Linked DNA regions of Homo sapiens: region 2 is linked to region 1. Evidence: fine-mapped expression QTL. A gene starts in region 1. The other region holds a variant in brackets. All regions are shown on one strand. Distances are between the middles of the regions.

Evidence for each region.
Region 2: its variant is fine-mapped to the expression of PRUNE2 in blood mononuclear cells (TOPMed, PIP 0.96).

Annotation. Positions count from the first base shown.
Region 1 is chr9:76,903,600-76,907,995 of GRCh38, reverse strand. PRUNE2 (prune homolog 2 with BCH domain) reads left to right here and starts at 1,882. Exons shown (of 19, transcript NM_015225.3): 1 at 1,882-2,068. The coding sequence starts at 2,033. RefSeq lists a silencer at 1,753-1,812.
Region 2 is chr9:76,699,723-76,704,118 of GRCh38, reverse strand. PRUNE2 (prune homolog 2 with BCH domain) reads left to right here. Exons shown (of 19, transcript NM_015225.3): 9 at 20-782. Among named protein-coding and RNA genes, the nearest start is that of PCA3, 63 kb to the left of the region's middle. The variant T/C (reference allele first, on the strand shown) is at 1,900.

The DNA.
Region 1 (4,396 bases):
TTCTGAATAAAAAATAATTGGATCATGAGACACACATATACACACAGAGACAGACAAGAAAACAGACACACATTGAGACAGGAGAAATAGAGCAAAAAAAAAAAAAACCCTTCCATATGTACCTTTTTTCATTAAAACATATTTATTGAGGACCTGTATATGACATGAACATACATCATGTTAGGGTTCCATCAGTGAATGAGACAGGCAAGGTCCCTGTCTTTACAGAGCTCACAGCCTGGTGGAGGACATAGACAAATAATTATGCAATTTATAGCAGAGTGGAAAATGTAAGTTGCTATGAGGGAATACAGAAGGGGCAACCAACTCAGTCTGGGGATGGGAAGGGAAAAGTGTGTTGGGGAGGCTTTCTGGAGAAAGAGAACTTCTACGCCACTCACTGTCAAAGTGTGGTTTTTGGATCAGCAGCATCGGCAAACCCTGGGAGATTGTATACATGGACATTCTCAGGCCCATTAAGCCACACCTATTAGGGCTAAAATTCTAAGGATGGGGCACGGAAATCTGTGTTTCATCAAGCCCTCTAAGTGATTTAGATACATGTAAAGTTCATCGAGAATCAGAGCATCACACCTGAACTGCACATTAGAATCACTTGGGTCACTTTCCACAGAAATGCTGTGGCCCCATGCCCAGAGATATTAATTTAATTGGACTGGGATAAAGCCCTGGTATCAGTACTTTCTCAAGTCTCAGGTGATTACGATGTGATTTTACTGTGCAGTCAGGGTTGAGGCTACTTCTGTAGAACAGCTGAGGCTGGGGGCTAGGACAAGGGCTGGAAGGATCTTACAGGTGGTGTGCAAAAGCCCAGAGGTCAGAGAAAGCCTGATGTAGTGTGTTTGGGGACCGGACAAGGCTACATACAACAAAACCCCATGATTTAAAATAAGGTTTGTAGATATAAGTTCATTTGTTCATTGTAGTACTTCTTAAACTTTAACAAGCATAGAAATCATCTGAGGGTCTCATAGAAACACACAGATTCTGATTTGGTAAGTAGGAGCAGGGGACTGAGGTTCTGCATTTCTATAAGATCAGCGATGCTGATGTTGCCGGTCTGCAGACTGCACCTCACCTTAGCAAGGTTCTATTGCCCCAGCTTTCCCTGAGGGTACATGTCAGTGGATGGGAACTGCAGAAGGATGTATCTATGCATTAGTCCCAGGGCTGACATAAGGGCACCTAGTTGGGGTGAACTGTGGATGCCCATTGTTGTGTGGACATGTTTTCATGGTAGGGAGGAAAGACGCAGCCTCGCCCAACCTCCTAGCCTGCTCTTCTGATTATTATCCATCAAGGTCGTACTGCTTTTAGCTCAGCAGTAACTCCCCTCTTTCTCTCCTCGTCCCTCCCACGCCAATCTAGCTGAGTGCCTCCCCCGGCCAGGCCAGCCGACCAGATCATTAAGTGACCGCCGGAGTGCTCCGTAACGCGCCAGCCAGCCAGTGAGGCGCTGGGCGAGGCGGGGGCTCTCCTGGGACCCGTCTCCCTCTTCCCACCTTCCCCCGCTGACCGCGGCGGTGCCTGCGGCAGAGCCTCCCTCTGCAGCAGCCCCTTGCACTTGGCTCGCACTTCTGGGCGCTGTCCATGGTTGCAGCAGCTTTCGGCGCGCCACGTCAGGAGGCCGCAGCACGGCCCTGCGATTGGCGGAGGAGCCCCTCGCCATACCCCTGCACCTCCGCCCACGCGCCACGGCGCCCGAGGCGCGTGCCAGAGAGCGTGCCCGGCGCGCCCCGGGGCTCCTGGGCGGCACACCCACTTTCCTTATTAGGGCAGAGTCGGGTGCCCAGAGCCGGCGGCCGGGCGAGGGGTGGGGCGGGGAGCCCTGGGCGAGACGGTCGAGGGCGCAAGCACAGCCTCCGCCGCAGCCGCCTCAGAGCGGCAGGAGGGAGCAGTCGGTCGCTGCGCCCCGGCGGGCCACTTTCCCGGGACCCCGCTCGTCTTCCTTGGGCCGAGATTTTCCACTGCGCCCCTCCGAGTACCCGGGTTCCAAACCCCTAGCCACGACATGGAAGAATTTTTGCAACGCGCCAAATCTAAACTGGTAAGTTGAGTGAGCAAAGCTGTGTGTGTGCGCGCGCGCGTATGCTAATGGAAAGGTGGAGAGGAAAAGGTGTTGCAGCAGAGGAGGAAGAAACAACTTTGCCACGGAGTTATCAGGGTGTGCGGGTTGTCTCCTGGAAGAAATCTCAGGAACTCTGGCTCTTAAAGCTGGCAATCTGTCTCCAGAATCCTCCACCGCAACCAGACGAGGTGCAGAGCTGAAGGAGGTTGTGGCCTGGCTGAAGTTGGGTCGCTTCAGTCCAGCTTCGGTCCCTAAATCAGCAGTTTGCTCCTGAAAGCTAAGGGATAAATGGGTGTGGTCTTCCTTGAGATAAAGAGCCCAGCCTTCTGCAGATGCATTACGTGTAAGTGTAAAAGGAAAAAAAGAGACCCTTAGAACTGTACTTCAGCTGGAGGTGACAAAAGTGAGGAAGTCAGGGTGCTGGGTAGCAAGGACATGTGTGGTACTGGAGAATCCACAGAATAGAGCTTGCTCCACTGCAGGAGTTAGGGATATTCTAGTGTGTCTTGTGTCTCGCTAATTCCTGTTCACATCTGTAAATTGGGGCGGAGGCAGAAGGGGAAAGCTCTAACTGTTGGTGTTCTGGAGTTTACCAGATCATCGTTCTCCCGGGAGCAGACCTGTGTGTTAGCCCATGTTTACCATATCACTGTCCAAACAGTGAATGGGCAACTCCACTGTGTATGTTAACAGTTGCTACACATTCTGAAACAACAGACTCTAGCAGTTTCTTAATTCCAAACTGTTTTGGCTCTCCAGCACAGCAGTAATAAACATAATGGAAATGTTTCTGTTTTGGCAGAAAAAAAAAGAAAAGCCTGTACTCATTTAGAAGCAATATCTTTAAAGAACTGTAAAAGCACCTTTTACAGGCCTGGCATAGAAAGAAATGCATAATTTATGATGCCTTTAACCTTTAAGCCTTCATAGAAGCCAAAATGTAAAGTCTGCATTAAGGTAATGTTTTAATCACAAGGCAGGATATTTGCAGGGTTATTACTGTAACTCATTTACCCTCGCACAACAAAGGGAGTGCAGGAAGGGAGGGCCCAAAGATGCCTGAACCACCATTCAGAGTGCAGACGGAAGTGTGATCCTTACAATGGTCTAACTGTAACTATCTTGTAAAAGACCATTAAAGTTGATAAGTGCTTATATAAAACTTTCTACCTGAAACCTCCCAGAGAGTTGAACGTTTGTGGAGATTTCCGAGTTGAGGAAGTTTGTGATCATCTCTGTGTTTATTGACCCTTTTATAGTTTTACTAGAGCACATGGATGAAAATACTAATTTCAGAAACTCAAGTAAGTATTTGGCATTTCTGATAGTATAAGTACATGTTCTGTTCTTTACCTAGTAATGAAGGAGAAATGTTCAAAAATGAAAGACAATTTTGGCAACTGTGCGTGTGTGTGTATGAAAATGGTAATCAATGACAAACACAGAGTTCTGGGCTGTATCTGTTTTTCACTCCCATAACATTTATTTATCAATATTTTCACAATAAACATTTAGACTGTGGGGTCTGATATGAGCAAGAGGTTTGTCTCAATTCTGAGGAGCAGTTGCTGGAATGGAAGTTTCCCTATTTCCGAGTAATGAGTTGAAAGTAATCTGTAATTTATTTACCCTTCATTAGACGAGCAATTGCTCTACATCATTAAAAAAAAAAGGACAGGAAAGAGAAGCGGTTGTTTGAAATATTGTTACCAGTTTCATGTCTTAGCCAGAACAATTACTGCTAATTTTATCGTTTCTTGGAATAAGCTTCTTCTAGAAATCATGATTAACCTTTCACATCCAGCCACAGCAAAGGTGTGTTGGTCACTTTTAGTGTCATATTTTCCTGAGAAGTTACATTTTCTAGGTAATAAGATTTTTACTTAATGTATGACACTCAAATATAGTAGTAGATAACATTCTCCTTTAGAGGGTAGATAACCTTTTTCTTGGAGAAAAAGAATTAAGTCAATGTCATTCACTTGTGGGAAATTTATTTATAATAAAAAGGTAAGATTTGGCCGGGTGTGGTGGCTCACGCCTGTAATCCCAGCACTTTGGGAGGCTGAGGCGGGTGGATCACCTGAGGTCAGGAGTTCGAAACCAGCCTGGCCAACATGGTGAAACCTCATCTCTACTAAAAGTACAAAAGTTAGCCAGGCATGGTGGCGTGTGCCTGTAATCCCAGCTACTAGGGGGGCAGAGGCAGGAGAATCACTTGAACCTCGGAGGCGGAGGTTGCAGTGAGTCGAGATTGTGCCACTGCACTCCAGCCTGGGCAACAGAGCGAGACTCAGTCTCAAAAAT
Region 2 (4,396 bases), 200 kb after region 1:
TTTCAACTTCCACTTCTAGGTGCCAGCAAGGAAATATCAGAATTGGAAGAAGAAAAAACAATTCCTACCAAAGAGCCTGAGCAGATAAAATCAGAATACAAGGAAGAAAGATGTACAGAGAAGAATGAAGATCGTCATGCACTACACATGGATTACATACTTGTAAACCGTGAAGAAAATTCACACTCAAAGCCAGAGACCTGTGAAGAAAGAGAAAGCATAGCTGAATTAGAATTGTATGTAGGTTCCAAAGAAACAGGGCTGCAGGGAACTCAGTTAGCAAGCTTCCCAGACACATGTCAGCCAGCCTCCTTAAATGAAAGAAAAGGTCTCTCTGCAGAGAAAATGTCTTCTAAAAGCGATACGAGATCATCTTTTGAAAGCCCTGCACAAGACCAGAGTTGGATGTTCTTGGGCCATAGTGAGGTTGGTGATCCATCACTGGATGCCAGGGACTCAGGGCCTGGGTGGTCTGGCAAGACTGTGGAGCCGTTCTCTGAACTCGGCTTGGGTGAGGGTCCCCAGCTGCAGATTCTGGAAGAAATGAAGCCTCTAGAATCTTTGGCACTAGAGGAAGCCTCTGGTCCAGTCAGCCAATCACAGAAGAGTAAGAGCCGAGGCAGGGCTGGCCCGGATGCAGTTACGTTGCAGGCTGTCACCCATGACAATGAATGGGAAATGCTTTCACCACAGCCTGTTCAGAAAAACATGATCCCTGACACGGAAATGGAGGAGGAGACAGAGTTCCTTGAGCTCGGAACCAGGATATCAAGACCAAATGGGTAAGCAAAAAGCTAGATTTATTTTTTTTCCTGAAAAGCAATTTATTTAGAAACCTGGGAAATGGTTAGAGGTTATGGAATATGAGGAATACCTGGATGATAGCAGCTTTGCTTATATTGAATGCAAGGCACACCATCAGTAAAAGCAGCTACTAGATAACTATAACCATAATGATAATTTATGTACATTTTCAGCCAAAAAGCCCCTTCAATTTTCATTCAGTCTTATACCTACCCCCCAACTGCCACCCCACCTACTTGAATACCTACATGACTCTTCAACAGGCAGTTGGGAATACAAGGAAGTGACACTAACATTTAATCAGCACCTACTATGTGCAAGGCAGTTTGCATACATTATCTCATTTAATCCTAACATGCCAGTGGGGGGAATGGAAGGAGTAGGGTTGAGTAGGGGGATTCAAGGCTCAGAAATTTTCTATAATTTGCCTAGAATTAAGTAACCAGAGTGAACACCTGGGATTCGAAGCTTGCCACCTCCAAAGCCTGTACTTTCTCAGTTGACACACCGCTTAGCATACAGAGGCATTTTCATATTTTCAAATACAAGGCATTTTCTGGTTTTATGTAAGCACCTAACTTATAGTTAGATAAGAGACAGGCTCCACAGCAGTCTCCAAATCTCAGTGTAACACATTCATTCCCTAATTGGCAGAGAAATTGGCAAACTGTCATTAAATCAGTGATTCATTCATTCATTCATTCACCATGTGGTTTTTGAGAGCTTGCTCTGTGCCGTGGTTCTGGGTAGCCAATGGGCATATATCAGGGAATAGGATGTCATCACTGCCCTCAAGCTTCCAGTCTCTGCTGAAACTGTTTAGCATTCTTCATTTCTCTTCATTTGTGTTTATGAAGCCCACCTGCTTCCAGGGACAAAAGAACAAATTGTGAAAAGTAACTTAAGTAACGGGGAAAGTCATGTTTTCTCCTTAAAATGTAATAGAGAAAAGATATCGGCCAGGTGCGGTGGTTCATACCTGTAATCCCAACACCTTGGGAGCCCAAGGTGAGTGGATCACTTGAGGTCAGGAGTTTGAAACCACCCTGGCTAACATGGTGAAACCCCGTCTCTACTAAAAATTCAAAACTTAGC[T/C]GGGGTGGTGGCAGCACCTGTAATCCCAGCTACTTGGGAGGCTGAGACAGGAGAATTGCTTGAACCTGGGAGGTGGAGGTTGCAGTGAGCCGAGATCGTGTGACTGCACTCCAGCCTGAGTGACAGAGCCAGACTCCGTCTCAAAAAAAAAAAAAAGCGAGAAAAGATATATTTTTGCTACTCAGCTTGGGAGTGTAAAGGACTATACACATCACATACCCACAGTGAGTCAAGGAATCTGGATTCCAGCCTGCCTCTACCATGACTGATTATACATTTTAGGATTAATCCCAGGCTTAGGTTTTCTCATGCGTAAAATTAGTGAGTTGGGCTGAAAGATCTCAAGGCTTCCTGCAGTATTAAATTCTGGGAACTTAATTTGTGTGGAAACAGAATGTGTCCAGGGGAGCTTTGGCATTCACAAATTACATTTCTTGATGAAAGGAACAAGGACAATGGAAAGAATAGCTGGGGTATGTTGAGGATTAGCCAAGTGCAGAAGGGGTTAAAAGCTCTACCATATTCCAGGGCAGCTTCATAAATCCAGACATTGTCAGCTGGCCTAATCCTTCTTTCTTCCTGTCAAGCTATTTTCTTCCAGAGAGACCCCAGATCCGTTATCAGAAAGAGAGTAGCAGATGGATCCCAGCAGCCCTGCTGGCATTGTTATAGATTGAGCTCAGAACTCAGGCAGCCATGAGTTGGCTGAGCTATTGTTTGGCTTCTTGTGTGCATTTTGCACATGCCCCGAGATCCAACAGATGACAGTCAGTGTTCAATTGTGCCACCAGCACCTTTTCTTTCAACAAGATTTCTTTGCTCATCCCTTTCTGCTCAGCTTTTGTAGTACTGAAACTTTTCTCACAATGGGGATGGGGCAGATTTTCCCTCCGGCATGTGTATTATCTTTTGCATAAATAATTTACTGTGAATGTGTAAGTCTCCCTCTGTGCTAGATTTTGGGAGAATAAAGAGTTGTCTAAAACTGTGGTTCTCTAAGTGGGGTCCTAAGAACAGCAGCATCAGTATCACCTGAGTACTTGTTAGAAATGCAAATTATCGGCTCCGACTCAGACCTCCGGAATCAGGAACTCTGGGGGTGAGGCCCAGCCAGCTGAGCTTCAGCAACTCCTGATGCCCTCCAAAGCTTGAGAACCACTGGTTTAAAACATACTGTCAGCCGTCTAGGAGTTTACAGTTTAACTAAAGAGTTAGACATAAGTAAAAAGGTAGATAGCAGTGTAATATTTAAGTCAAGCTAGTCAATGCCCAATGTCAGTTTAAGTATAAAATGGGTACTAACTACAGGCTATTTGCTGTTGGACCAGGTGTTAAGCACTCTGCGCTATTTCACTTTACATAGGGCAACCCTGCGAGACAAGAATTATACAAGTGAGGAAATAAGAGGAGAGATATCTGTTTCGGGCGCCTTTATGGAGCAGGCAGCAGGAATGGCTTATTCTCTGTCAGACACAGGAGACAGAGTGCCCAGGGCCCATGATACTTTAAGGAGCCCATGAGAATATTTTCTTTTATAGTCAGAAGAAAAAATTATTATACTTTCAAGTGGATTTGTCTTTATACCAACAAAGTTATAAAATAAATTTTTAAAAAATGTTTTAATGACAGAAGGGGCTTATGAAGGCACTCCTCAAGGGGCTTATGAAAGTCACTAAAGGAAAGGTCATAATTTGGAAAGGCAAAGAAGAGGGTAAGAAGCTAGCTGAGTGAACTGGGATGAATACTATGAAGGAAGCCATGGGGACAGGAAGGTAATCACAGAAGCAAAACAATGAGATAGCTGTGGTTTCCCAAACAAAAACCTGGAAACATCTTCTGACACATAATCTGATCATAGAACAGAAGATCCAAAATCAAGACCATTCTGCAAAAAAGAAAATTAAGAAAGCCTCTTCTTAAATAGAAATAGGTTCATAGTATGTGCAATATGACTCACCAGCTGCAAATCAGCTTCTTCCCTCCCCTCCTTCAGCCTCAGCCTCTCTTAGCTGCCAAACTGTTTTGAGAGCTGCAAGCCACATTTTGAAAATCTGAGAAAGCATGAGAAAAATGCCTTTTCTCCTCATATGCCACCTACTGACTCTTGTTAACAAAACTTGTTACTAGGGCTGAAAGATAACCTCTCTCCCTTGAGATTTGCAGCACTGCATTCATGTTCCCTAGGATCAATCTTTCCAGAATCCTTTGCCAACACCTTGGTCATCCTCCAGCTATAGACCTGTCCAGCAGGGGATCAAATACCAGTTCCCCAAGACAGTGATGGATGTGCCTGATCTTTCCTACATAGTCACAAAGAACATTTGCAGGGTAATCTGTAGCACACAGACCTTTCTTAAAAGGAAGAAACATTTAGCTGTTTATTTTAAAGAAAGCATGATTGGAAGAATGATGTGTGAAGAAAGGGGTAATTTGGTTACATGTTAGGGTTTTTCAGAAAAACAGAACAAATAGGAGATATCTGTATTTAGATCTCCAT